Linked DNA regions of Homo sapiens. The protein of the gene in region 1 interacts with the protein of each later gene in a biochemical or structural test. Each region holds a gene or a part of one and is shown on either strand. Other genes may lie near its edges. The genes, in order: RBL2, SKP2, USP4, RINT1, TOP1, PHB1 and RAF1.

Evidence for each region.
Region 2: of the proteins of RBL2 (region 1) and SKP2, one has a biochemical effect on the other in vitro, tested with the Homo sapiens proteins (one study listed by BioGRID).
Region 3: the proteins of RBL2 (region 1) and USP4 form a complex in vitro, tested with the Homo sapiens proteins (one study listed by BioGRID).
Region 4: the proteins of RBL2 (region 1) and RINT1 form a complex in vitro, tested with the Homo sapiens proteins (one study listed by BioGRID).
Region 5: the proteins of RBL2 (region 1) and TOP1 interact in a test that uses a peptide from one of them, tested with the Homo sapiens proteins (one study listed by BioGRID).
Region 6: the proteins of RBL2 (region 1) and PHB1 form a complex in vitro, tested with the Homo sapiens proteins (one study listed by BioGRID).
Region 7: the proteins of RBL2 (region 1) and RAF1 form a complex in vitro, tested with the Homo sapiens proteins (one study listed by BioGRID).

The regions. Positions count from the first base shown.
Region 1 is NC_000016.10:53,465,471-53,468,970, forward strand, and holds part of RBL2 (retinoblastoma-like protein 2), read left to right. Parts: coding exon 1-132; intron 133-1,587; coding exon 1,588-1,699; intron 1,700-3,500. UniProt on the Homo sapiens protein: Key regulator of entry into cell division. Directly involved in heterochromatin formation by maintaining overall chromatin structure and, in particular, that of constitutive heterochromatin by stabilizing histone methylation.
Region 2 is NC_000005.10:36,162,111-36,165,610, reverse strand, and holds part of SKP2 (S-phase kinase-associated protein 2), read right to left. Parts: intron 1,967-3,500; coding exon 1,855-1,966; intron 1-1,854. UniProt on the Homo sapiens protein: Substrate recognition component of a SCF (SKP1-CUL1-F-box protein) E3 ubiquitin-protein ligase complex which mediates the ubiquitination and subsequent proteasomal degradation of target proteins involved in cell cycle progression, signal transduction and transcription.
Region 3 is NC_000003.12:49,333,554-49,337,053, reverse strand, and holds part of USP4 (ubiquitin carboxyl-terminal hydrolase 4), read left to right. Parts: intron 1-1,457; coding exon 1,458-1,585; intron 1,586-3,500.
Region 4 is NC_000007.14:105,545,701-105,549,200, forward strand, and holds part of RINT1 (RAD50-interacting protein 1), read left to right. Parts: intron 1-1,209; coding exon 1,210-1,383; intron 1,384-1,483; coding exon 1,484-1,633; intron 1,634-2,848; exon of another isoform or gene 2,849-2,853; coding exon 2,854-3,010; intron 3,011-3,128; exon of another isoform or gene 3,129-3,267; intron 3,268-3,500. UniProt on the Homo sapiens protein: Involved in regulation of membrane traffic between the Golgi and the endoplasmic reticulum (ER); the function is proposed to depend on its association in the NRZ complex which is believed to play a role in SNARE assembly at the ER.
Region 5 is NC_000020.11:41,098,322-41,101,821, reverse strand, and holds part of TOP1 (DNA topoisomerase 1), read right to left. Parts: coding exon 3,485-3,500; exon of another isoform or gene 2,998-3,484; intron 1,767-2,997; coding exon 1,579-1,766; intron 1,165-1,578; exon of another isoform or gene 1,030-1,164; intron 651-1,029; exon of another isoform or gene 614-650; coding exon 469-613; intron 1-468. UniProt on the Homo sapiens protein: Releases the supercoiling and torsional tension of DNA introduced during the DNA replication and transcription by transiently cleaving and rejoining one strand of the DNA duplex.
Region 6 is NC_000017.11:49,408,383-49,411,882, reverse strand, and holds part of PHB1 (prohibitin 1), read left to right. Parts: intron 1-43; coding exon 44-205; intron 206-2,409; coding exon 2,410-2,552; intron 2,553-2,724; coding exon 2,725-2,841; intron 2,842-3,500.
Region 7 is NC_000003.12:12,605,118-12,608,617, reverse strand, and holds part of RAF1 (RAF proto-oncogene serine/threonine-protein kinase), read left to right. Parts: intron 1-2,318; coding exon 2,319-2,417; intron 2,418-3,500. UniProt on the Homo sapiens protein: Serine/threonine-protein kinase that acts as a regulatory link between the membrane-associated Ras GTPases and the MAPK/ERK cascade, and this critical regulatory link functions as a switch determining cell fate decisions including proliferation, differentiation, apoptosis, survival and oncogenic transformation.

The DNA.
Region 1 (3,500 bases):
CTTTGTAGAGAGGTGGTAAAACACCTTAATCAGATTGAAGAACAGATCTTAGATCATTTGGCATGGAAACCAGAGTCTCCACTCTGGGAAAAAATTAGAGACAATGAAAACAGAGTTCCTACATGTGAAGAGGTTTGTGAAAATAACATCTTTTTATGAGAAAAATACATCAATATCTAATCTATTAATAATCCTTTTGGGGATGGGAGGGTGGCAATTAGGTTTAATATGTTATAATTACACCTTGTTATGAGAAAAATCTTGGACTGTAACGTCCCTCTCTACCCACAAATTGGGAAGGTGCCAAGAGACCAAAGAATGACTCAGACAAGTCCAGCTTGGTAAGTAGATAACGTTTATTAAGACTTACATATGGAGGAGGCAGAGGTGGTGGGGAAAAATAAAAGACTTATATACAGGGTACTCCTAGGTAGCAGCAGGACAGCTCTAGAGATCCTCGCCACCTCCCATCGCTAAGCTGCTTTTAAGCTAATTTTCTGGCTCTTTGCCTACTATGTGTGTGCACGATGGGACTGTTTTCCTTGGTAGTTTCTCAGATCTTCTCTGGGATGTTGGGGTTCTCAGGGACACCTGTTCCTTGGCTGGGCACCATGGCCTTGGCTCACTGCCTAGCCTTCAGGGTTTAGGCAGCAGACATACACCCTTAAGTAAGGTAGGTGACCTGTCACATTTCACCCCATGTCAAAGAGGAAACGAGTCAGATAATTTGTGGTTGTCCTAAGATTTTGGTGACAGAGTAAAAATTCAGTGTTCTTTCTTGATTTCCTTACCAAGTTTCTTTCCCATAGAGCAGTGGTCCAACCTTTTTGGCACCAAGGACCAGTTTCATGGAAGACAATTTTTCCATGGACAGGGTTGGGGGTTGGAGAGATTTTGGGATGATTCAACTGCCTTACATTTATTGCACACTTTATTTCTATTATTATTACGTGGTAATATATAATGAAATAATTATACAACTCACCAAAATGTAGAGTCAGTGGGAGCCCTGAGCTTGTTTTCCTGCAACTAGATGGTCCCATCTGGGGGCGGTGGGAGACAGTGACAGATCAGCAGGCATTAGATTCTCATAAGGAGCATGCAACCTAGATCCCTTATGTGTGCAGTTCACAATAGGGTTCACACTCCTGTGAGAATCTAATGCCACCACTAATCTGACAGGAGGCCAGCACAGGCGGCAATGTGAGCGATGGGGAGCAGCTTTAAATACAGATGAAGCTTTGCTCGCATGCTCACTTGCCTGCTGCTCACCTCCTGCTATGTTGCCCAGTTCCTAACAGGGTCCATGGCCCAGGGGTTGGGGACTCCTGCTTTAGAGTGGTTGATATTCAAACTCTCCAAACCAGTAATGAAGTTTGACTCATATTTAGTATCCAATTACAAGGTTTTGAATTTTTTGACTGCCAAAAGTTTTTTTTTTAACTTTATTATTAAAATGGGAAAGACAGCTGATTTTATTTAGATGGAATAATTGTTAAGATACTTTTTCTGCCTTAGATTACTATTGTATTTGTAATTAAAGTGCTTTTTTGGATACTGGCATTCTGTGTAACCAATTCTTCATAGGTCATGCCACCTCAGAACCTGGAAAGGGCAGATGAAATTTGCATTGCTGGCTCCCCTTTGACTCCCAGAAGGGTGACTGAAGTTCGTGCTGATACTGGAGGACTTGGAAGGAGTAAGTTTAAAATACTAGGAGAATATTTTGGGGCTTACTATCTGGAAATTTAAATTTCATCTAACCCTACAAGTGAAGTTAATAGGGTATACATAGAAGAAAATATTCTATGCATTTTTGTACCACATGGATCACTTAAAAGAAGGGCCTTTAAAGACTAAGAACACAGGAAAATGCATGATATAACAGGTATCTTTTAAAAAGGATAGACTGCTTTATTTATTTATTTATTTATTGAGACAGAGTCTTGCTCTGTCACTCAAGCTGGAGTGCAGTGGCCCAATCTCAGCTCACTGCAACCTCTGCCTGCCGGGTTCAAGCGATTCTCATGCCTCAGCCTCCTGAGTAGCTGGGACTACAGGCATGCGCCACCACGCCTAGCTAATTTTTGTATTTTTAGTAGAGAAGGGGTTTTGCCATATTGGCCAGGCTGGCCTTGAACTCCTGACCTCAAGTGATCCGCCTACCTCGTTCTCCCAAAGTGCTGGAATTACAGGCATGAGGCACCGTGCCCGGCTGACTGCTGTATATTTAATATGATCCCTATTTTTAAAGTGTATGTTTATTTATGAGCATACAAAATAGTGGAAATGGAAAAACCAAACTGTTAAGATCATTGTTGGGTGATAGAATTCCTGGTGATTTCTGTAAAATTTTTAAGGCAAATACATATTACTTTTAAAATCAGAAATAGAAAAGCCTTCTTAAAGATAGAGCTGCATGATCCAGTTAGGTATAGACAAGCCAGTGAGTTAAGACAACTGAGTATGTTCCACTTTGTTGAGCTGTGCTACCCTAGTTAATGTGACATTAGTGCTGGCCCAAGAAATACAGAAAAGGGCAGTTTTGCTATCTATCTGGTTTGTATTTTTTAGGCAGCTGCTTAGAAGATCTGCAAGGTGAAAGGTTTTAGTTTACATATGTGAGATAGAACTACTTTTTTAAAGAGCAATTCAGTAAATCCAGAGAGTTCTAAATCCTTGGATCCAATTAAAAGAATATTCTTATTTCTAGATCAGTTTTATAATGTAATTGATAAGAACTGGCTATAGAAGGAATACCAGTTTTAAAGTCAGGATTCACTCTAGGCTGGGCATGGTGGCTCATGCCTGTAATCCCAGCACTGTGGGAGACCTAGTGGGGAGGATCACTTGAGCCCCGGAGTTCAAGACCATCCTGGGCAACATAGCAAGATACCATCTCTACCCCCAACCCCCCCAAAAAAATCACTCTAAGTGTATACTTAATACACATGGATGATCCTTATGAAAAGTCCTCATTTTTGAAAGATCTGACAGCTGGTCTTTCTTAGTCTATTTTTGTAGAATTTTCCGTTCCCTAATCTACAGATTAGGAAGACTTGACTTTAAACTTCATTTTCTTTGTACTTACCACTTCTCAGTTTTCCTGAGATCTCTTGATATTTTATAAGAAAAAATGATCATAATCTATTCTTTCTGATTCTGCAGCTTTGTACCAAATACAAATCTAGTAAGTTTATTTACTTTTGTATCATCTGGAAATAGAAATGTTAAGCCACAGTTTGTTAGGATTTACTCCTATCAGTACTTCTTACAAACTTTCTATGTATATTTTAAATTTTAAAAACACTCTGATGCACAGCTCTTAGAAGTGGACACAGAAGAAGGAAGAAATGCTTCTCAAAAATTCAGACATTGGTGTGAATACTTAAAAATAGACTAAGCCATAATGGGTTGTGTACCACTGAATCATACACTTAAAAATGGTTGAATGGTAAATTTTATGTTATATATATAACCACAATTTTAAAAAACTAGCC
Region 2 (3,500 bases), on another chromosome or scaffold:
TAAGATATCCTTAAGAGAGTGGCACACTTTTGTATCTTTCTTGCCCAGACAGAAATCCATTTTGGCCTCCAAGGTATTGGTATTGACACCAGATCAGCACTGCTCTGGTTGTCTTGAATCTCATGCTTGATGTTTCCTCTTGCAAGAAGGCAAACTATAGCTTAACCAGCATTCAATAACAACAACCTGGGAGAAGTTTTGGAACAATTCATTTTCTTTCCAAATAATATACATTTTTTAGGAAGATGAACACCTCACAGAAAAATGAATTTGGGAGCTACCTGAACCCTAAGCCAAGCATAACTAGATATGGTATGATGGTTAAGACCGTGGAGTTAGCCAAACTTTAGATTCCTGCCTTTCCACTTATCTCTCAACCTACTATTCCTGACCCTGCAGTTTCCTCACCTCTGAAGCTGAGATGACACAAACACCATCACTTAAAATCATATGGAGGATTAAATTGCAAACACTGCACCTGTCACAAAGCAAGTGCTTAATAAATGTCAGTAATTACTTTTATGACAACTGAGATGAAGTTTAACAGACTCTAAGGGAGATGTAGGTCAAAGAATACAAAGCCACAGATATGCAGGATGAACACATCCCAAGATATAGTATACAACAGGAGAACTAGAGTCGATAATACTGTATTGTAGTCAGAATGTTTGCTAAAAGAGTAAATTTTAGGTGCTTTTGCCACAAAAAATAGGTAACTATGTGAGATAATGAATATGTTAATGATAGCAGCCATTTCACATACTTATAACAAAATATCATGCTGTATACCTTAAATATATACAATAAAATTTTAAAATGGGATTAACAGACTCTGCAAGAAGAGGATAAATGCATAGCTGGCAGAAAAAGAAAACCAAAGTGGGGTTGAGTGCGGTGAGGGTAAGTGAAACTTGCCTGCCACTTGCACCAGCATTCCAGGTGTGCAACCCTCTCTGCGGCTCTTCTAAGCAAACAACCCACACCTGTAAATAGCAGCACGCCCTTGAAGGCAAGAGGCTCCTGCTATCTCACACAGGGAGTTCTAAGTATGTGGAGGGAGAAGCCAGACGGATGGCCTTTAAACACAAAGCAAAGAATGACCAGGAGGTAGGATAGGGATGAGAAGGCATGAAGATAGTAAAAAGTTCCAGTTGATAAACATAGCCTTTTTCTTGCTCCAGGCCTGTTATTGCCTTTCCAGCTCACCAAGTCTTTCCACATGCAACTCACCTTCCACACTTGAAAAGTGTTGCCAAAAAAAGAGCACAACCCCACCAATGGCTACTCTGTGTGGAACATGTCTGTGAGTCAGGCATTACACCAGCATCTTCACATTTCATCCTCATAACCAGTGGTTTCCTCCTCATAACCATTATCCCCATTTACATATGGGGAGACTGAGGCTCAGCAGTGTCAACTAACTCACTCAGGTCATGCAGAGCGTAAGCAGCAGAGGCTGGGTGTGCACTCGGGTCTAACACCAAGCCTGTGTTCCCTCTCCCTATTGTGCTCACTGCTCAGCCCAGCGGCGTGAGGAACCGCTGTCTGCATGCACCTCTGTAACTCTCTCCGCACTTAAAGCACACCGCCTGGCCTACAGTCAGCATCCCATAAACACATGCTGCACTGAATACAGGGCAAAGAGGTTTCCAGACATTGGTAAGTTTATCCCTCCCAGGAAATTCCTCTTCCACTGTGAAATGAGGACACTGATTAATAAAAATATGAAGATACCTAGTTTGCTTTGCGCTGCTCTATTTTTCTTGGTTTTTAGTTTCATCAGACCAAAACGAATAAATAACCTTCCTCTCCTCTTCCTCCCCTACGTTTGCCAAAGGGGTGAAAAATACTTACGCTAGGCGATACCACCTCTTACAAACACCAGAGACCTTTAGCAGCTCAGGGAGGCACAGACAGGAAAAGATTCCCAAGAGCAGCTCATCCGGAAGGGAGTCCCATGAAACACCTTTGGAGGGAAAACAAGTGTTTGCCATCACCATTCTTTCACCCTATCAAGTCTACTGAGTCTTTTCAAACACATAAAGAATATACAACATTTAGCTTAAATGAGGAATTTAGCACAAATTAAATTACTCATCCTCACAATTATTTTTGTTTGAAAAATCATTTCTGTTGAACAGAAAAATAATTGTGGTGATGAGTAATTTAATTCGTGTTAAATTCCCCATTCCATCATCTATGTACCCTGAAGTGACCACCACACTCTCTCAGCAAATCAAAAAGAGAAACCCAGAACACTTTTCCTATTCTTCCCTTCAGCTCTAGCCAGCCAATCGGAGGCTGTGGCATGAAGAGTGGTACAGAGCAAGTCCCACCCTCTCAAATGTCATTCAATGACATTGTCAATTCATTGACATCAATAAGATATTGTGGTGCTTCTGGGTGCAAAGGAAGGCCTTGTTTCTCTCTGATGTGGACTCAGTAGTGACCTTATTTAAAAGGCAAATAAATCTTCTTCCCTTTCTGCTATGGTTGGCTGTGTCCCCACCCAAATCTCATCTTGAATTGTAGTTCCCATAATCCCCATGTGTTGCGGGAGGGACCCAGTGGGAGGTAATCAAATCATGGGGACGGTTACCTGGTGATAACCGCCCCTGTAATTTGATGCTGTTCTGGTGATAAGTGAGTTCCCACAAGATCTTATGGTTTTACAAGTGGCTTCCCCGACCCCTTTGCTCTGCACTTGATGCCGCCATGTGGAGAAGGACGTTTGCTTCCCCTTCCACCAAGCTTGTACGTTTCCTGAGGCCTCCCCAGCCAGGCTGAACTGTGAGTCAATTAAACCTCTTTCCTTTATGAATTACCCAGTCTTGGGTATGTCTTTATTAACAACATGAGAACAGACTAATATGCTTTCTTTCAGGTTTACAAAAGGCACAGTTTACCTAAAAGAGCAATACAAAAGGGTATTGTCATTTCTTAATTCAACAAATATTTACTGAGCTCCTACTATGGTGCCAGGTATCATTTTAGGTGTTGGGAAGGAGTAGTAAATCAGACCCAAAACACTACCTTCGTGGGACTTCATTCCAGTAATGCGGAACAGATAATCACACATCAAAAAATAAGTACATTATATGATATAGTAAAATTGATCTGTGCTGTGCAGAAAAATTAAACAGGGCAAGGGAGAGAACAGAGAGTTCAGAGCAGATGTTATTAAGTTTGAACATGGTGGTCAGGGAAGGCCATACTGAGATGACGATCACTAAGCAAAGGCTTGAACAAAGTGAGGGAGTGAGCCCTGTGAGTATCTGGTGTACGTGTTCTAGATCCAAGGAACAGCATGTGTGTTTGAGGCATAGCAAGGAGGCCAGTGTAGAGCGCAGAGGTAGGTGGGTAGAAAAATCAGAGAGCAGCCAGGTCATGCAGGCTTCCTAGGTCATGATAAAGCCTTTGGCTTTGACGCTGAATTCTATGAGGCACCACTAGAAGATTCTGAGCACAGGAATGACAGGCCCTCACGTAAGTTCAAAAAG
Region 3 (3,500 bases), on another chromosome or scaffold:
CTCGGCCTCTCAAAGTGCTGGGATTACAGGTGTGAGCCACTGCGCCTGGCCTTGTGTGTACATTTTTGGAACTCCTTTGGTCCTTAAAGGAAAACTGAAGTGGGTGGTGTTTCTAACCCATTTTCAGAAAGAGCATTAGTTTAGTGCTGTTCATGTCAAGCAAAACAGTGTAACCAAACTGTCTGCCTGGAGTGGGACTTCTGTAAAGATCATTATGAAATTAATGACTTGTGGCCGGGTGCGGTGGCTCACGCCTGTAATCACAGCACTTTGGGAGGCCGAGGTGGGCAGATTACCTGAGGTAGGGAGTTTGAGACTGTCCTGACCAACATGGAGAAACCCTGTCTCTACTAAAAATACAAAATTAGCCAGGTGTGGTGGCACACACCTGTAATCCCAGCTACGGGAGACTGAGGCAGGAGAATCACTTGAACCCGGGAGGCGGAGGTTGCGGAGAGCCGAGATCACACCATTGCACTCCAGCCTGGGTAACAAGAGCGAAACTCTGTCTCAAAAAAAAAAGAAGTTAATGACTTGTTTATTAGCAAACATGATTTTACCCATGAAAAGACTCCATTTAGACTGAGTGTGGTAGCTCATGCATGTAATCACAGCACTTTGGGAGGCCAAGGCAGGAGGATCACCTGAGATCAGGAGTTCGAGACCAGCCTGGCCAACATGGTGAAACTCCATCTCTACTAAAAATACAAAAAAATTAGCTGGGCCTGGTGATGCATGCCTGTAATCCCAGCTACTTGGGAGGCTGAGGCAGGAGAATTGCTTGAACCCAGGAGGTGGAGGTTGTAGTGAGCCAAGATCATACCACTGCACTCCAGCTTGGGCAACAAGAGCGAAAACTCCGTCTCAAAAAAAAAAAAAAAAAAAAAAGAGGCCAGGTGCAGTGGCTCATGCCTGTAATCCCAGCACTTTGGGAGGCCGAAGTAGGCGGATCACCTGAGGTCAGGAGTTTGAGACCAGCCTGCCCAACATGGTGAAACCCCGTCTCTACTAAAAATACAAAAATTAGCTGGGAGTGGTGACAGGTGCCTGTAATCCCAGTTAGTCAGGAGGCTGAGGCAGGAGAATCGCTTGAACCTGGGAGGCAGAGGTTGCAGTGAGCCAAGATTGTGTCACTATACTCCAGCCTGGGCGACAGAACAAGACTCCGTCTAAAAGAAAAAAAAAGAAAGACTGCATTTAAATAAGCATTTTGAAACCACTTGTTTTCTTTCTTTTATTCACTCTTTGAACAATCATTTCACTTAATGGATGCATACCCTGGGCCAGACTCTCTGTGCCATGTGGGGCCTGGGCCCTGCTCTTGCTCTTGTGACAGTGTTTTTTAGTGGGTATTGCATATGCCCCAAGTGGAAGGACCATAAAAAAGATTAAGGAAGCAGCTGCAGAAATTTATAATCTCAGCTTTTCTGCTACAGTAAATTTCTGTCTCTCTCTAGGTATCTTATTGACAGCCGGTGGTTCAAGCAGTGGAAGAAGTATGTGGGCTTTGACAGCTGGGACATGTACAATGTGGGTGAACATAACCTATTTCCTGGCCCAATAGACAACTCTGGGCTATTTTCAGGTATAGTAAATGTTGCTTTTCTAGCTAAACATTCACCTGGGCAGTGGCCTGATGTTATGTGCATCTGTAACATGGACGTTGTGAACTTTCCTAGTGTGAGGAGATAGAAACAAGTATCCTCATTTTGCATCTATAGCAGAAGTCTTTGCAAACCCTTAATGAGAAGTTAAGCTACTTTTTTCCCTTAAATTAACTGCATCTGATAAGAGTATGCTTCTAACATTTTAACTTTCTCTCTTTGCAAATTAGTTCTGCTAGCTATTTCACATTTTAAGTTAGTATATGGAATGGAAAGAAATAGGATGTCATTTTGAAATTGTATCTAAAATTTAAGAACCAGAATTTTTTGTTACCTTTGCAGTGGAACAAATTGTAAACCTGTGAACTTTCATCAAGAATTCCTGTGATGGCTGTTTTTATCATATAACTAGTGTGAGGAGAGGTTGAAGGTCAGTAGACAGAGTTATGACTGTAGTCAGCTCCCAATGGGAACTGTGGGAAAAGCGACATGTAACACACTAGAGCTTGCTTGCACTTGTACATGCACTGAGATGACAGAGTCAGCTTTTCCCAGGCTTTCTTTTGCCTGACTTCAGACCTCTTTAAAGTCATGATAGAGGTGATCTGTCATGGGTGTCAAAAATCAGGGCAGTGCCAGGAGTGGTGTCTCACGCCTGTAATCTCAGCACTTTGGGAGGCCAAGGCAGGTGGATCACCTGAGGTCAGGAGTTCGAGACCAGCCTGGCCAACATGGTGAAACCCCGTCTCTACCATGTTGGCTAGGCTGGCCTTGAGCTCCTGGGCTCAAGCTATCTTCCTGCCTCAGCCTCCTTAGTCACTGAGACTACAGTGTTCTACCACTCTCAGCTGTTTTTTAAGTTTTTTGGTAGAGACGGGGTCTTGCTATGTTGCCCAGGCTGGTTGAACTCCTGGCCTCAAGCCATCCTCCCACCTTGGCTTCCCAGAGTGTTGGTGTGAGCCACTGTGCCTGGCCTAACTTGGATATTTTTAAAACTGAGCAATGCTTCAGCTCAGACCTTGTTTTAGGAGAGGTCTACATGGTATAAACAATATCATTTACTTTGTTTCCTGAAATAGGTCAAATGGTGGCACTATGCCACGAAGTTGCCCTAAGGAATCATTTCATTATGTTCACATTTTGTTCTTTTTCTCATTTTTATGAAATGGAGAATTCTTAAGGTTTTAAATTCAGGCATACTTTGGCTTATTGTGCTTTGCTTTATTATATGTTGCAGATACTGCATTTTTAGCAAATTTTGTAGGTATTTGGCAACGCTGCCTTGACAATCTGTCAGTTCCATTTTTACAACAGCATGTGCTCACTTCATGTCTCTGTTACCACATTTTGGTAATTCTCAAAATACTTCAAAGTTTTTCATTATTATTTGTTATGGTGATCAGTGATCAGGGAGCTTTCTTTTTTTTTTTGAGACGGAGTTTTGCTCTTGTTGCCCAGGCAGGAGTGCAGTGGCATGATCGTGGCTCATGGCAACCTCCACCTCTTGGGTTCAAGTGATTCTCCTGCCTCAGCCTCCCGAGTAGCTAGGATTACAGGCATGTGCCACCACGCCCGGCTAATTTTGTATTTTTAGTAGAGATGGGGTTTCTCCATGTTGGTCAGGCTGGTCTTGAACTCCCGACCTCAGCCTCCCAAAGTGCTGGGATTACAGGCATGAGCCACCATGCCCAGCCAACAGGGATCTTTCATGTTGCTATTGTAATTGTTTTGGGGCATCATGAAGGGAGCCCATGTAAGACAGTGAACTTAATTGGTAATTATTGTGTGTATTCTCGCTGCTTCACCAACCAGCCATTCCATCTCTCTCTCTCTCCTCAGGCTTTGCTATTGCCTGAGACACAATGACACTGAAATTCGGCCACTTAGTAACCCTAA
Region 4 (3,500 bases), on another chromosome or scaffold:
TTTTTAGTAGAGACGGGAAGGGTTTCACCAAGTTGGCCAGGCTGGTCTCGAACTCCTGACCTCCGGTGATCCACCCATGTTGGCCTCCCAAAGAGGCCACCACGCCTGGCCTCTTTTTCTTTGAGACGGAGTCTCACTCTGTTGCCAGGCTAGAGTGCAGTGGCATGATCTTGGCTCACTGCAACCTCCGCCTCCCGGGTTCAAGCAGTTCTCCTGCCTCAGCCTCCCGAGTAGCTGGGATTACAGGTGCCCACCACCATGCCTGGCTAGTTTTTATATTTTTAGTAGAGATGGGGGATGGGGAAGGGGGGGCGGGGGGCGTTTCACCAAGTTGGCCAGGCTGGTCTCAAACTCCTGACCTCCGGAGATCCACCCATGTTGGCCTCCCAAAGTGCTGGGATTACAGGGTTGAGCCACCAAGCCCCGCCTGGAATTATATTTCTTTGAAGTGGGAAATCAAGTTCAGCTGGGCAAAGTATGTAACAATTGAAGACCATCATACTTGACTTTACCAGATACTACCACATTATTCCCTTGGATTAAGATACTGAAGACTTTGTAAAAGGCAGATTTATCAGAAATGAGTGGTGCCCAAAGGAATATGACACAAAACAGGTCTGTCAGGAGGAGTAGGAAGGGAAAGGTCCCGGGAGAGGTCTTGAACATAGGCTGCAGGCTGCTGCTCTTAGAAGAATGCAGAAGTAGAGGACTCTAGGCTCCCAGAGAGGCCTTGGTAAAAGGCCTCAGGGTGGTGCTTTGTTAAAAAACAAAGGCTACCTCAGGGTGGTGCTTCATTCTTCCTTGGATGTAACTTTATATAAAACATGAAGAAGAAGCACTTTTTCCGAATTTGAAATTATTCTGAGCAATCCGTTCTTTAAATTTGCTTTCGGCTGGGCACGGTGACTCACGCCTCTAATCCCAGCACTTTGGGAGGCCGAGGCGGTCGGATCACTTGAGGTCAGGAGTTCAAGACCAGCTTGGCCAACATGGTGAAACCCTGTCTCTACTAAAAATACAAAAAATTTAGCCAGGCATGGGGGCGCATGCCTGTAATCCCAGCTACTGTGGAGGCTGAGGCGGGAGAATCACTTGAACCTGGGACACAGAATTTGCATTGAGCCAAATCATGCCACTGCACTCCAACCTGGGCAACAGAGTGAGACTCTGTCTCAAAAGAAAAAAAAATTTGCTTTACTTTGTTTACAGTGATAACATTCAGCAATATCTGATGACCAATAATGTACCGGAGGCAGCCTCCACTCTAGTGTCTATGGCAGAACTTGACATTAAACTTCAGGAATCATCTTGTACTCATCTTCTTGGTTTCATGAGAGCCACAGTTAAATTCTGGCATAAAATTCTCAAGGACAAGCTTACAAGGTAGGGAATTTACCCATATTTTGTGGTAATTGCTTTCCGATGGGTATTTGGTGATCATTTGGTGATGTACTGAAATGTATGTGTTACTTTTCCATTGCAGTGATTTTGAGGAAATTTTAGCACAGCTTCATTGGCCATTCATCGCACCCCCTCAATCACAAACTGTTGGCTTAAGTCGACCTGCCAGTGCCCCGGAGATATACAGTTACCTGGAGACACTGTTTTGTCAGCTTTTGAAACTACAAACCTCGTATCTTTGTTGCAGCTGAAAACTTACTAAAATTTCTTTTTTCTAGAATGGGTTTGTGGCTAGAGAGTAAAACTTTTTCAAAGTGGCCAAGAAAGCCAAATAAGAATCCTGTGTTTGGACTTGGTCTGTAAATGTCCACTGAGTGGTGGACTGTACTCTTGCAAAGTGAATTGCTTGTAGGTGTGAGGGCTGTAAGGAAGAGTTCCGGGATACATGACTGATCCAAGTTCATAGCACAAAAAGGTCTCTTGGGGCAACAGAACAAATGGGCAATTGGGAGGAAACCTTTAGTGTCATAGCGTGAATTTAATCAAATGATACTTGAATTTTTTTTGTTACTATTTTAGGAAAGATTTATAGATTAATTCTAATACCATTTTTGTGCTTTTTTTTTTTTTTTTTTGAGATGGAGTTTCGCTCTTGTTGCCCAGGCTGGAATGAAGTGGCGTGATCTCATGATCTCGGCTCACCACAGCCTCCACCTCCCGGGTTCAAGCGATTCTCCTGCCTCAGCCTCCCGAGTAGCTGGGATTACAGGCGTGCACCACTATGCCCAGCTAATTTTGTATTTTTAGTAGAGACGGGGTTTTTCCATGTTGGTCAGGCTGGCCTCGAACTCCTGACCTCAGGTGATCCACCCGCCTCAGCTTCCCAAAGTGCTGGGATTACAGGTGAGAGCCACTGCACCTGGCTCATTTTTGTGCTTTTTTTAAAGACATGGTCTCACTTTGTCACCCAGGCTGAAGTGCAGTGGTGCAGTCATGGCTCACTGCAGCCTTGACCACCCAGGCTCAGTTGATTCTCCCACCTCTTCTTCCTGTGTAGCTGGGACTACAGGCACGTGCCACCATGCCCCGCTAATTTTTGTTGTTTTTTGTAGAGATAGGGTTTTGCCGTATTGCCTAGGCACGTCTCAAATTCCTGTGAAGTGGCCCAAGTGATTAGCCTGCTTCAGCCTCCCAAAGTGCTGGGATTACAGGCATGATTCACTATCATCATGCCTGGCTTTTTGTGCATTTTAACTGAATGTATATTCAATATAAAGAATTAACTGTATGTTTATTCAATATAAAATTAGGTTACATATTATTTGCATCATAATTAACTCTACTGAGTATCTGATACATTTGTTGGAAAAATTTATTGTGTGTGTATACATACATATGTGTGTGTATATTAGGTATGCTTTTGATTCTTTTTCCTTGACTTGATTATGTCAGAGATGAATTACTTACTGAGCCAAAGCAACTCCCAGAAAAATACTCTCTTCCTGCCTCCCCTTCTGTCATCCTGCCCATCCAGGTTATGCTGACTCCTCTTCAGAAGAGGTTCAGGTATCACTTCAGAGGGAACCGGCAGACTAATGTGTTAAGCAAGGTGTGTTTTGCCAGCTCTTGTCCTTGGTTTTTATTGGTAACAAATGTTAGAGTTTCTATACCTTTGCTGGTTTAAGTTAAAATCTGACTCTCTTCACATTTCTGTTTTTTTTCTAAAGGGCTACATTCCTGTTTTGTTACTGCTGTTCATACATATAATTGAGGACTTGTGTTCATATACTGTAGGAAAAATGGTATTTCCGCTCTTGGGCATCAGATATTGCTGAGTTATCATTGCAAAACAAAGCAAAGCAAATAGTAAGCACTTGGTATTTCTTTTCTTTTTTTTTTTTTGTGAGTTGGAGTCTCGCTCTGTCACCCAGGCTGGAGTGCAGTGGCACAATCTCTGCTCACTGCAACCTCCACCTCCCAGGTTCAAGCGATTCTCCTGCCTCAGCCTCCCAAGTAGCTGGGACTACAGGCACATGTCACCACACTGGACTAATTTTTGTAATTTTAGTAGAGATGGGTTTCACCATATTGGTCAGGCT
Region 5 (3,500 bases), on another chromosome or scaffold:
CAGAAGTATGTAAGACATTAGATTTTACAACTTGTTTCAGGATATACAGAAACTACATTCCCTTCTCATAACCAAGAGAGGTGAGGAAGTAGAAGACATCTGCAGAGGCCAATATACAATCACCATACTTCAACACATTCTGACCACTGGACGTTAAGCAATATGAAGGCAGGGCCTACGTCTATCTTGTTTACCAACATAATTCCTAGCATCAAATGTATACTGTGTGGGGCACATTTGGGATTTCAGTAAATATTTGTGAATTAATAAATAAGATTACAATGTGACCAAAAAAATGGAGGCACTGTAGGAAGATCACCATAATGCTAACTATGAAAGTACTTGCCTTCTTTCAATGGGGAGGATTTTTAATTTGTCAAAGTGATTCTAGAGGACGAGAACGTTACATTTCAACAAAAAAAGGTTATCAGCACCATGAACCAGTGCAGCTCTCAACTATCCCCTTACCTTGATTCGTGAACTAGGGTTAAGCATGATGTATTTAATGGAACCTTGGATGTTCTCTGTCCAGGAAACCAGCCAAGTAACCTTGTTATCATGCCGGACTTCTTTCCACTTATGTCCTGGAGGAGGAGAAGGAACCTTGGCATCTCTGGAAATAACAGAGCACGAGGATAGTGAAATAAGATGTGAGGAATAATTTCACCTTTCATGACCCCAAGTGGACCTATCTGCTGAGCATAATTTTCCAAGTTTCCTTCTTAACAGTCAATACAGTAGTCCCACCTTATGCATGGTTTTACTTACCCTCAGCCAACTGTCATCCGAAAATATTCAATACAAAATTCCAGAAATAAACATTTTGTAAGTTTTAAATTGCACATCATTCTGAGGAGCATGATGAAATCTCTTGTAGTCCCACCTGGGATGCGTGAACCATATATACAACATACCATGCTGTATATGTCACTTGCCCATGGGTAACCTAGTAGCTGCCTTATTTATCAGGTTGACTTTAATGGTTTTACATTGCTTGTGTTCAAGTAATCCTTCTTTTACTTAATAAAGGCCCCAAAGTGTGAAAGTGGTGATGTTGGCAATTTGGATATGCCATACAGAAGCTGCACAGAGTGCTTTAAATGAAAAGGTGGAAATTATCGACTTAATAAAAAAAACTGTATGGTGAAGTTGCTAAGATCTAAGGTAAGAATTAACCTTCCATCTGTGAAATTGTGAAGAAGGAAAAAGAAAGTCGTGCTAGTTTTGCTGTTGTGCCTCAGACTGCAAAAGTTATAGCCACTCTATGTGATAAGTACTTAATAAACATGGAAAAGACATTAAATTTGGGGGTGGAAGACATCAACAGAAATGTGTTCCAAGTGACAGCAATTGGGTCGAAGTTGCAGGCATCCACTGGGGGTCTTGGAACATATCCCCTGTGGATGAGGGGAGACAACTGTACCTCAAAAACATCTGGAGACCTACGCATGAAATACTGTCCTGCTCTTAAGTATCTCCCTTCCCAAACAGTCCTGTGTAACCTGGGAAATATTCCCAAGTACAATAAAGGACGCCCTCCACCCCCTTTTTGGCCCATAGGATGAAGTGCGAGCTCACTTGCTACAGTTGATGATTATATCCTCGGGCATGATTCGTCTCTTCAGCATGCCCATCTTGGGGTGGTTGCCGCGGCCACGGAAAAGTCCAGGAGGCTCTATCTTGAAGTTAGCAATCCTCTCTTTGTGGTTATCCATAATACAGAATCCATATTCTTTCAGTAATTTTTCATTCTCCTCTTTGATTTTCTGGAAGACAGCAAGAAAGTACTCAAAATAGATTCAGATTGCTGTTCTCTACTAATGCATTTTATCTCTTGTGGGAGACTAAGTCAAGGTAGAGGAAAGTCTGAAAAATCACTAAAAAATAAATTCAAATAAAGGAAAACCTCTAGTGGTTTTCTCAAACTTAAATATCATAAAATTCCCCAAAAAGATCTGCCTATAAGGATTGATTTCAACTAGATTCAAAACTGATTCTTGTGTCTTAAAGGATATATGTTTGTAAATGTTATTTGGGTGTTTTTAAATGTACTTTAAAAATTCATACTGTTTTACTGAGTACTATCAAAACAGGAAATGGAGAAGAGTCTCTGATAGAGCCTCATAAAAGAATAGCTCAAGCCATTTAATTAAACAGCAGTTAAACAGCTTAAAAACGTGGGTTTTTAAGCTCAGACAGATCTGTCACTAATTTTTTTGTAGGTATACAGGTATATACACTCTATACTATGATCCTTGCTCCAAAAAGGTGAGGGATGGTGGGGGAGATTTTGAGCCTCCTTACCCTCTATTGACTCTGCGTTTTATATACTTATTGATTCAGTTTAACTAAGTTGTGCTGCCTTGTGGGTGGGAACAGATTCAGACCTTGCTGGCAGCAGGTGTCCTTGGCAGAGGCTCTGACAAGGGGATGTTTATAAAATCTATCTTTGGATCAATATTCTAAGAACAAAGCTCCAAAGTGATCTTTTAAGTTTCAAAATGCCCCTGAAGTAAATAATATACTAAATTTCACTAACTTGGAATATTGAGGATAAGATTTACCTGAGACACAAAGTCTGATGCAATTAACATTCTTATAGTAATGCATTAATTTTTAAACTAGTGACCAAATAAGTACCATGAAACAATGAGTTATATCAATACAATGGTCTGAATTACGTAAACACGCAAGTCCTTTAAAATACTGAAACTACAGGAATTTGAAGTGCAAAGAATTCCTTAAAATCCTTAACTTCTGGACTTCCGATTGGTAAAAATGAAATTCTAGCCTGGATTCCTTTAGTTCAGGGGCTGACAACTTTTTCTAGATAGAAAATATTTTAGGCTTGAGTGCCACACAGTCTCTTTTGCAACTACTCTCTTTTGCAACTACTCATCTCTGTCATTGTTGCATAAACACAGCCGTAGATAATATGTAGACAAGTAGAGGCAGCTGGTTCCAATAAATTTTTTTTTTTTTTTTTTACAAAAACAGGCAGCCTGTAGAAGAAAAATGACATCCCAGCTGGATACCAGAAAGATCCTTCAGTAATGAGGATGGCCAAGGCTGGAAGATGGAGATGGATGAGCATCACAAGATTCCAGAGTAAAATAGATCAAAGAGCAGGGAGGTACATGGCCAATATGATTTCATCTGTCTTAAATCCTTAATATCCAGTAGCCACTGTGGGACAGGTCTGCCCATCCTTAATTACTATATTATTGGCTGGAGTTACTGACTGGTTTTTAGGTCACTGAAGCACCAAGATTCCTGTACAGAGCTACTGAGCAAAGTACTTGTTCACAATTTTCAGTCTAACTAAAACCTTTAAGAAAATTTAGACTTTGAGAACTCTAAGTCTTTAGCATAGAATGATGTGAAATTACTGATGTTAATGTTGTGTCATAAGAACCAAGAAGAAAGTTAAATGAACCAATCACAATTCCAGAATTCTCCAGAGGTTTAATAAATTCTGTAGTACCAGTTTCTCTTCCTTG
Region 6 (3,500 bases), on another chromosome or scaffold:
GATGAGAGGATTTTTATGACATGTCATTGTCCTTTCTTCCTAGTGGATGCTGGGCACAGAGCTGTCATCTTTGACCGATTCCGTGGAGTGCAGGACATTGTGGTAGGGGAAGGGACTCATTTTCTCATCCCGTGGGTACAGAAACCAATTATCTTTGACTGCCGTTCTCGACCACGTAATGTGCCAGTCATCACTGGTAGCAAAGGTGAGTCTTGCCTATGGTTCAGGTAAAGTAGGGAGTGTGGAAGAGGTGCTCTGTTCTTCTGTGTCACAGGAGCATCTGTGGGATACCAGGATCCAAAAGAGTTTGAACTGTACATCATAGGAATGACTAGACTACTTGCCCTGGAGAGCTTGATATGGAATCTTAGAAATACCCACTTATGGCTGGGTGCGGTGGTTCATGCCTGTAATCCCAGCACTTTGGGAGGCTGAGGCAGGTGGATCACCTGAGGTCAGGAGTTCAAGACCAGCCTGGCCAATGTGGTGAAACCCCATCTCTCCTAAAAATACAAAAATTAGCCGGTGGTGGGGGGTGCCTGTAATCCCAGCTACTTGAGAGGCTGAGGCAGGAGAATTGCTTGAGCCTGGGGGGCGGAGGTTGCAGTGAGCTAAGATTGTGCCACTTCACTGCAGCCTGGGCAACAGAGTGAGACTCTGTCTCAAAAAAAAAAAAAAAAAAAGCCTGCTTCTAATCTTCCCATCTCTTTGGAATTTCTTTCCGTACTGTTTTGCAGTTGTTTTCAGGATACATTATGTACCTATTTCTAAAACTATTGATAGGAGCTTCCAGAGATCAGGGAGTTGTAGGTATTAATACATTGCCCACCTCTCTTGGTGCCCAGTTCAGGGCTGTCTCATGGGCGCTTGGTCCATATTGTTGACATCTGTAAGCAAGCCGTGACAGTGCTTTGGCTCCAGGCAGGCCTGAATTGTCCAGGGGAAAGTATAATTCTCTCCCTGGATCCTTTAAATGGTCCAAGTAATGAGAAGCAGAACATAGGATCAGTCTGTTAACCCCTTATATGTGTTACACATTTGACAGAGTGCTTTTACGTCTGTTTTCTCCTTCAATTTTCCCCAACATTTCCGCAAGGCCCAGAAAGCAAATGAAATTGTCCCCATTCTCATAGACAGGGAAATAAGCTCAGGTTGGCTAAGGCTTAGAGAGGCCACATCATTAGTAAATAGCCCAGATCTTTGGACTGATAGTCTAACACCGTTTCCACCAGACCCGAACTAACCTCTCCAAGGCTGACTCCTGACTTGGCCACAATCACCAGAGCATGTAAAGGCCTCACCCTACAATTCTTAGCATTGCCCTGTCTATTGTCTTAAAATGTTCAGTGTTGCAAACTTTGCATGGCACCTGTTAGACATATAATCTGAATTATGTATATCTGAGGGCATTCAGGGGATACCAAAAAGCTGCTATCACTGAAGCCTCTTAAGAAATTATAAACTCTTTATGATGCTCTATTGGGTTCTCTGCCAAGGAAACCAGGCATACCTGCACCTTGCCCTCTGGGATCTTATAATCAGCAGATTTGCTTATAAATTGTAGCAAATTTGGAGCCAGGCACAGTGGTGCGTGTCAGCTACTCAAGAGGCTGAGGCAGGAGAAATGCTTAAGCTCAGGAGCTTGAGTCTAGCCTGGGCCACATAGCAAGACCTTGTCTCTAAAAATAAAAAATAAAAATTGCCAGGCGTAATGGCTCACACCTGTAATTCTAGCATTTTGGGAGGCTGAGGCAGTTGGATCACTTGAGCCCAGGAGTTTGAGACCAGCCTGGGAAATATGGCGAAACCCCAGCTCTACAAAAAGTACAGAGATTAGCTGGGCGTGGTGGTCTGTGCCTGTGTAGTCCCAGCTACTTGGAAGGTGTAGGTGGGAGGATCAACTGAGCCCAGGAGGTCAAAGCGGCTACAGTGAGCTGTGATCTTACCACTGCACTTCAGCCTGGGCAACATGTGACCCTGTCTCAAAATACATAAATAAAAATTGTAGCAAATTGGAGTAGGAGAGGTCATATAAAAGACCACTTGTGGCCAGGTGCGGTGGCTCACACCTGTAATCCCAGCACTTTGGGAGGCTGAGGCAGGTAGATCACCTGAGGTCAGGAGTTTGAGACCAGCCTAACATGGTGACACCCTGTCTCTACTAAAAATACAAAACAGCTGGGTGTGGCGGCGCGTGCCTGTAATCCCAGCTACTCAGGAGGCTGAGGCAGGAGAATTGCTTGAATCTGGGAGGCAGAGGTTGTAGTGAGCCGAGATTGTCCCATTGTACTCCAGCCTAGGCAACAAGAGCAAAAACCTGTCTCAAAAAAAAAAAAAAACAAAAAAAAAACACTTGTTTTCCTACAGTGGTTTTTATTTTTAACTCCAGTGTTTGTCCCCTACCCTAAGATTTACAGAATGTCAACATCACACTGCGCATCCTCTTCCGGCCTGTCGCCAGCCAGCTTCCTCGCATCTTCACCAGCATCGGAGAGGACTATGATGAGCGTGTGCTGCCGTCCATCACAACTGAGATCCTCAAGTCAGTGGTGGTGAGTGAACAGGGGCCTTTAGCCTCGAGCCCAGAGCACCACCCTGGGAGGGTGCCAGGTGGCAGGAAGCGCTTGGCAGTGGGTTGGTTGGGATGTGGCTGCTAGTTTCCTGGTTCCTTTTCTGCTTCCTCATTAACCTGACCTGCCCTTCTGCTCCTCCCTTTGAAACCAGGCTCGCTTTGATGCTGGAGAACTAATCACCCAGAGAGAGCTGGTCTCCAGGCAGGTGAGCGACGACCTTACAGAGCGAGCCGCCACCTTTGGGCTCATCCTGGATGACGTGTCCTTGGTAAGATCCTTCGGGAGACCGAGGAGGGGAAGGGGCTGCAGTTCTCGTTTAGGTGCCTGGCTCCATTTCTGGGTAGACGCTATTAGGTCCTCCCTTCTGCTTTGCTAGATGTGAGACTTGAAAACACGGAAACATGCTGAGGTGAGGCAGTCTCCGTGGGTTTTTCAGTTGAGGGTTCTTTTACCTTCCCCCTGCCACACACATTTTTCTTATGACCTCTGGTTGTATCCAGATAGTCTCTAACCACTAAATGTTTTACCTTCTCCAAACTGTTACCCAGAGAGTGATGCCTTGTTAACCCTGTTTGACACAGGCAGAAACTGCCTGGTAGAGACCAGAGAACAGCTCGGGTAGTCCTTCTCCCTAGCACAGACCTCCCAGCCTGACTCCTGGGAGCTTCCTAACACTTTACAGTCCGAAGCTCAGTGAAGTAAGCTCTGGGAACCCCAGTGAAAGGTGATAGAGTGTAAACGAACGGTTGGATTCCCCCAGGCCTGGTATAGGGGGCAAGGGACATCTCTGAGGCGTAAGCTATCCTCTTGAGACACTATAGCTTGTGTGTTTATATGACATTGGATGTCATAACTCAGAAAGCAATGCAGGCAGGATAGCGTTTCAGGTTGAGGAGGGTGAGGGGAAGGGGTCGTGTTTCTAGATTC
Region 7 (3,500 bases), on another chromosome or scaffold:
ATTCTGAAACTAGCTAGGTTTGGTGGCATTCATACTCCAGAATGAGCAGGTAGGAGTAGGACTTGTTATCTGTCAAATTGAGATTGACATACTGTGACTGTGATTCAGTAAGGAAAGGAGCAAAAGGATATGAAAACAAGAAGATTTTTTGCTTTTCGCTCTTAATAGTATTATCTACTGGGGTTGCTAGTAGACACTGCTCTGTATTTTGTTGAATATGCTGAATGAGCCTTTGACATTGAGAAGGAGCAGAAAGCACCGTTGATGCTATTTTCTTCACTTCAAACTGGAGAAAACTTAGTTGTTTGGACTTAAAATTGTTTGAATATAAAATCTTGAAAGATTCTTGTTTCTTTCAGGAGACAATATATTTCATATAGATAAAATGTTATTAAAGAATTTAAAGTTTACATTAAAAGTACATGGTCCAAACTGCCTTTTAAAAACTGTAACTAGGTATATGAAAAGTTTAAAAGTTTTGTCCTTTTTTGACAGTACTAGAGAAACCAAGGGAGTGTTATTATTAGACCATGATGAAAATGTTTTTGCTTTCATGGTCACTTACGTATTGATTTTGTGATGAGAGCTTGAGTAGCACAAATGGCACAAGCTTTTAAAATTTATCTTATTTTTGTCCCCCACCCTTTTTTTTTTTTTTTTTTTTTTTTGGAGACAAGTCTCTTTCTGTCATTAGGCTGGAGTACAGTGGCATGATCTCGGCTCACTGCAACCTCTGCCTCCCAGGTTCAAGTGATTCTCCTGCCTCAGCCTCCCGAGTAGCTCAGACTACAGGCACACACCACCACGCCCAGCTAATTTTTGTAGTTTTAGTAGAGATGAGGTTTCACCATCTTGGCCAGGATGGTCTCGATCTCTTGACCTCATGATCTGCCCACCTCGGCCTCCCAAAGTGCTGGGATTACAGGCATGAGCCACCACGCCCAGCCTTTTTTTTTATTATTATTTTTTAAAGACAGGGTCTCGCTCTGTCTCCCACAGTGGAGTGCAGTGGCATGATCACAGCTCACTGTAGCCTCGACCTCTCGGGTTCAAGTAATCCTCCTACCTCAGCCTCCTGAGTAGCTGGGACTACAAGTGTATGCCATCATGCCTAGCTAATTTTTGTATTTTTTCTAGAGACGGGGTTTCAGCATGTTGCCCAGGCTGGTCTCGAACTCCTGAGCTCAAGCAATCTGTCCGCCTTGGCCTTCCAAAGTGTTGTGGTTACAGGTGTGAGCCACCGCATCCGGCGGCACAAGCTTTTGAGTCTAACAGACATATGTCAAAATCTCAGTGTTGTCATTAACCATAACCACATCTGAGTTTTCGTTCATGCATCTGAATAAAGGGGATATTACCTTCCTTGCATTGTTCTTATGAGGCTTGCTGACATAACCTGTGAAATTACTAAGCACAAGTGCCCACCTCATGGAAAAAAGGTGCCTAATTACTCACTTTTCTGTGATTTATTCCTTCTATTTTAGTCTTTTATCTATGCATTTTCAAGATGGAATGTTTCCAGAGAAGCTGTGTGTGACATAGTTTGTGAAATGTTATACTGTAGTTTGAAAAATATTATTTTGATATAGCTAGACACAGGACCAGTATTTCCTAGAAATGCACACTGGGCCGGGCGCGGTGGCTCACGCCTGTAATCCCAGCACTTTGGGAGGCCAAGGCAGGTGAATCACCTGAGGTCAGGAGTTCGAGACCAGCCTGGCCAACATAGTGAAACCCCGTCTCTGCTAAAAATACAAAAATTGGGGGAAGGGATAGCATTAGGAGAGACACCTAATGTTAAATGACAAGTTACTGGGTGCAGCACACCAACATGGCACATGTATACCTATGTAACAAACCTGCATGTTGTGCACATGTACCCTAAAACTTAAAGTATAATTAAAAAAAAAATACGAAAATTAGCTGGGCATGGTGGTGTGTGCCTGTAATCCCAGCTACTTGGGAGGCTGAGGCAGGAGAACCCGGGAGGTGGAGGTTGCAGTGAGCCGCCATTACACCTCTGCACTCCAGCCTGGGCAACAGAGTGAGACTCCATCTTAAAAAAAAAGAAAAAGAAAAAGCACACAGGAGCCTGTATGTTTATTGGCAGGTCAGTATTATTCACATTCAATAATCATTCAAATCCAGTTATTTGGAATATTGTTCCCTTTATTCTAGGTAATGTAAAACAGTTGAGGAAAATGTGACTGGGAAAAGTTCAGTTTTAGTAGCTCTGAGTTTGCAAAAGCAAGGCATGCTGATTGTCTCTGTAAGATTACTGCAAGCCTAAAAACCAGTCTTTCCCTGCTTTTGTTTAGATTGTTTCCAAATTCCACTATTGGTGATAGTGGAGTCCCAGCACTACCTTCTTTGACTATGCGTCGTATGCGAGAGTCTGTTTCCAGGATGCCTGTTAGGTAATTTTTTACCTATAGCTTTTCTTTTAGAAAGTTATTTGGGGTGGTGGGGTTGGAAGCTTGAAGACAAAAAATAAGAGTTTCTTCGCATTCCCTCCTCTCTACGTGGAAACCCCTTGCTGCTTCTGTGGAACTTGATACTGGTGGTACAGAAAAGGTAGAAATTTCTGTTTATGGACCTGTAGGTCTTACATTCTGGAAAGTGACTTTGACTGTAGCTTCTTCTGTTATCATAGCATATTTCTTAATATGTCATTACATTTTAAAGAGCTTGAGATTCTGCTTTCCTCAGTATGTACTGAGTTCAACCTCAATGGAAAGGGTCCTAAAACTTAATACAGTGATTTGATAAAAATAAAACCCTTAACTTTGAAATGCATGTTGTGGCCGATGCATTTGCTAAAACCATGTATTTAAATAGACTAGTGTCTTTAAAAACATTTAATTAGATTTTCAGCATAAATATTGTTTCTCATGTGTCTCTGAGTTTGCATATAACTTGTCTTTCTTTACTCTGTTTTCCAGCTTTATAATCAGTTTTGTTGCGTTTATCTACTGCTCAGTGTTAACACACATGAATTTGAAACCTAAAGTAAAATCTACATCCAAAATATCTTACTTTAGGCCAGGCACGGTAGCTCACACCTGTAATCCCAGCACTTTGGGAGGCCGAGGCAGATGGACCACTTGAGGTCAGGAGTTCCAGACTAGCCTGGCCAACATGGTGAAACCCCATCTCTACTAAAAATACAAAAAACTGGGTGGGTGTGGTGATATGTGCCTTTTGGCCCAGGTACTTGGGAGGCTGAAGCAGGAGAATCTTGAACGTGGTAGGCAGTGAGCTGAGATGGCACCACTGCACTCCAGCCTTGGTGACAGAGCAAGACTCTGTCTCCAAAAAAAAATATATTATGTATACACACACACACACACACACACACACACACACATAATGTGTAATCAGATAATGTTTAATGTGAAAATACTATGGAAATATTAAACGCAGCATATCTTAGAATAAGGAATTTGCATATATCTGGATATATATTTCTGTATGGCTTTTATTTTTCTTGATAATTTGAA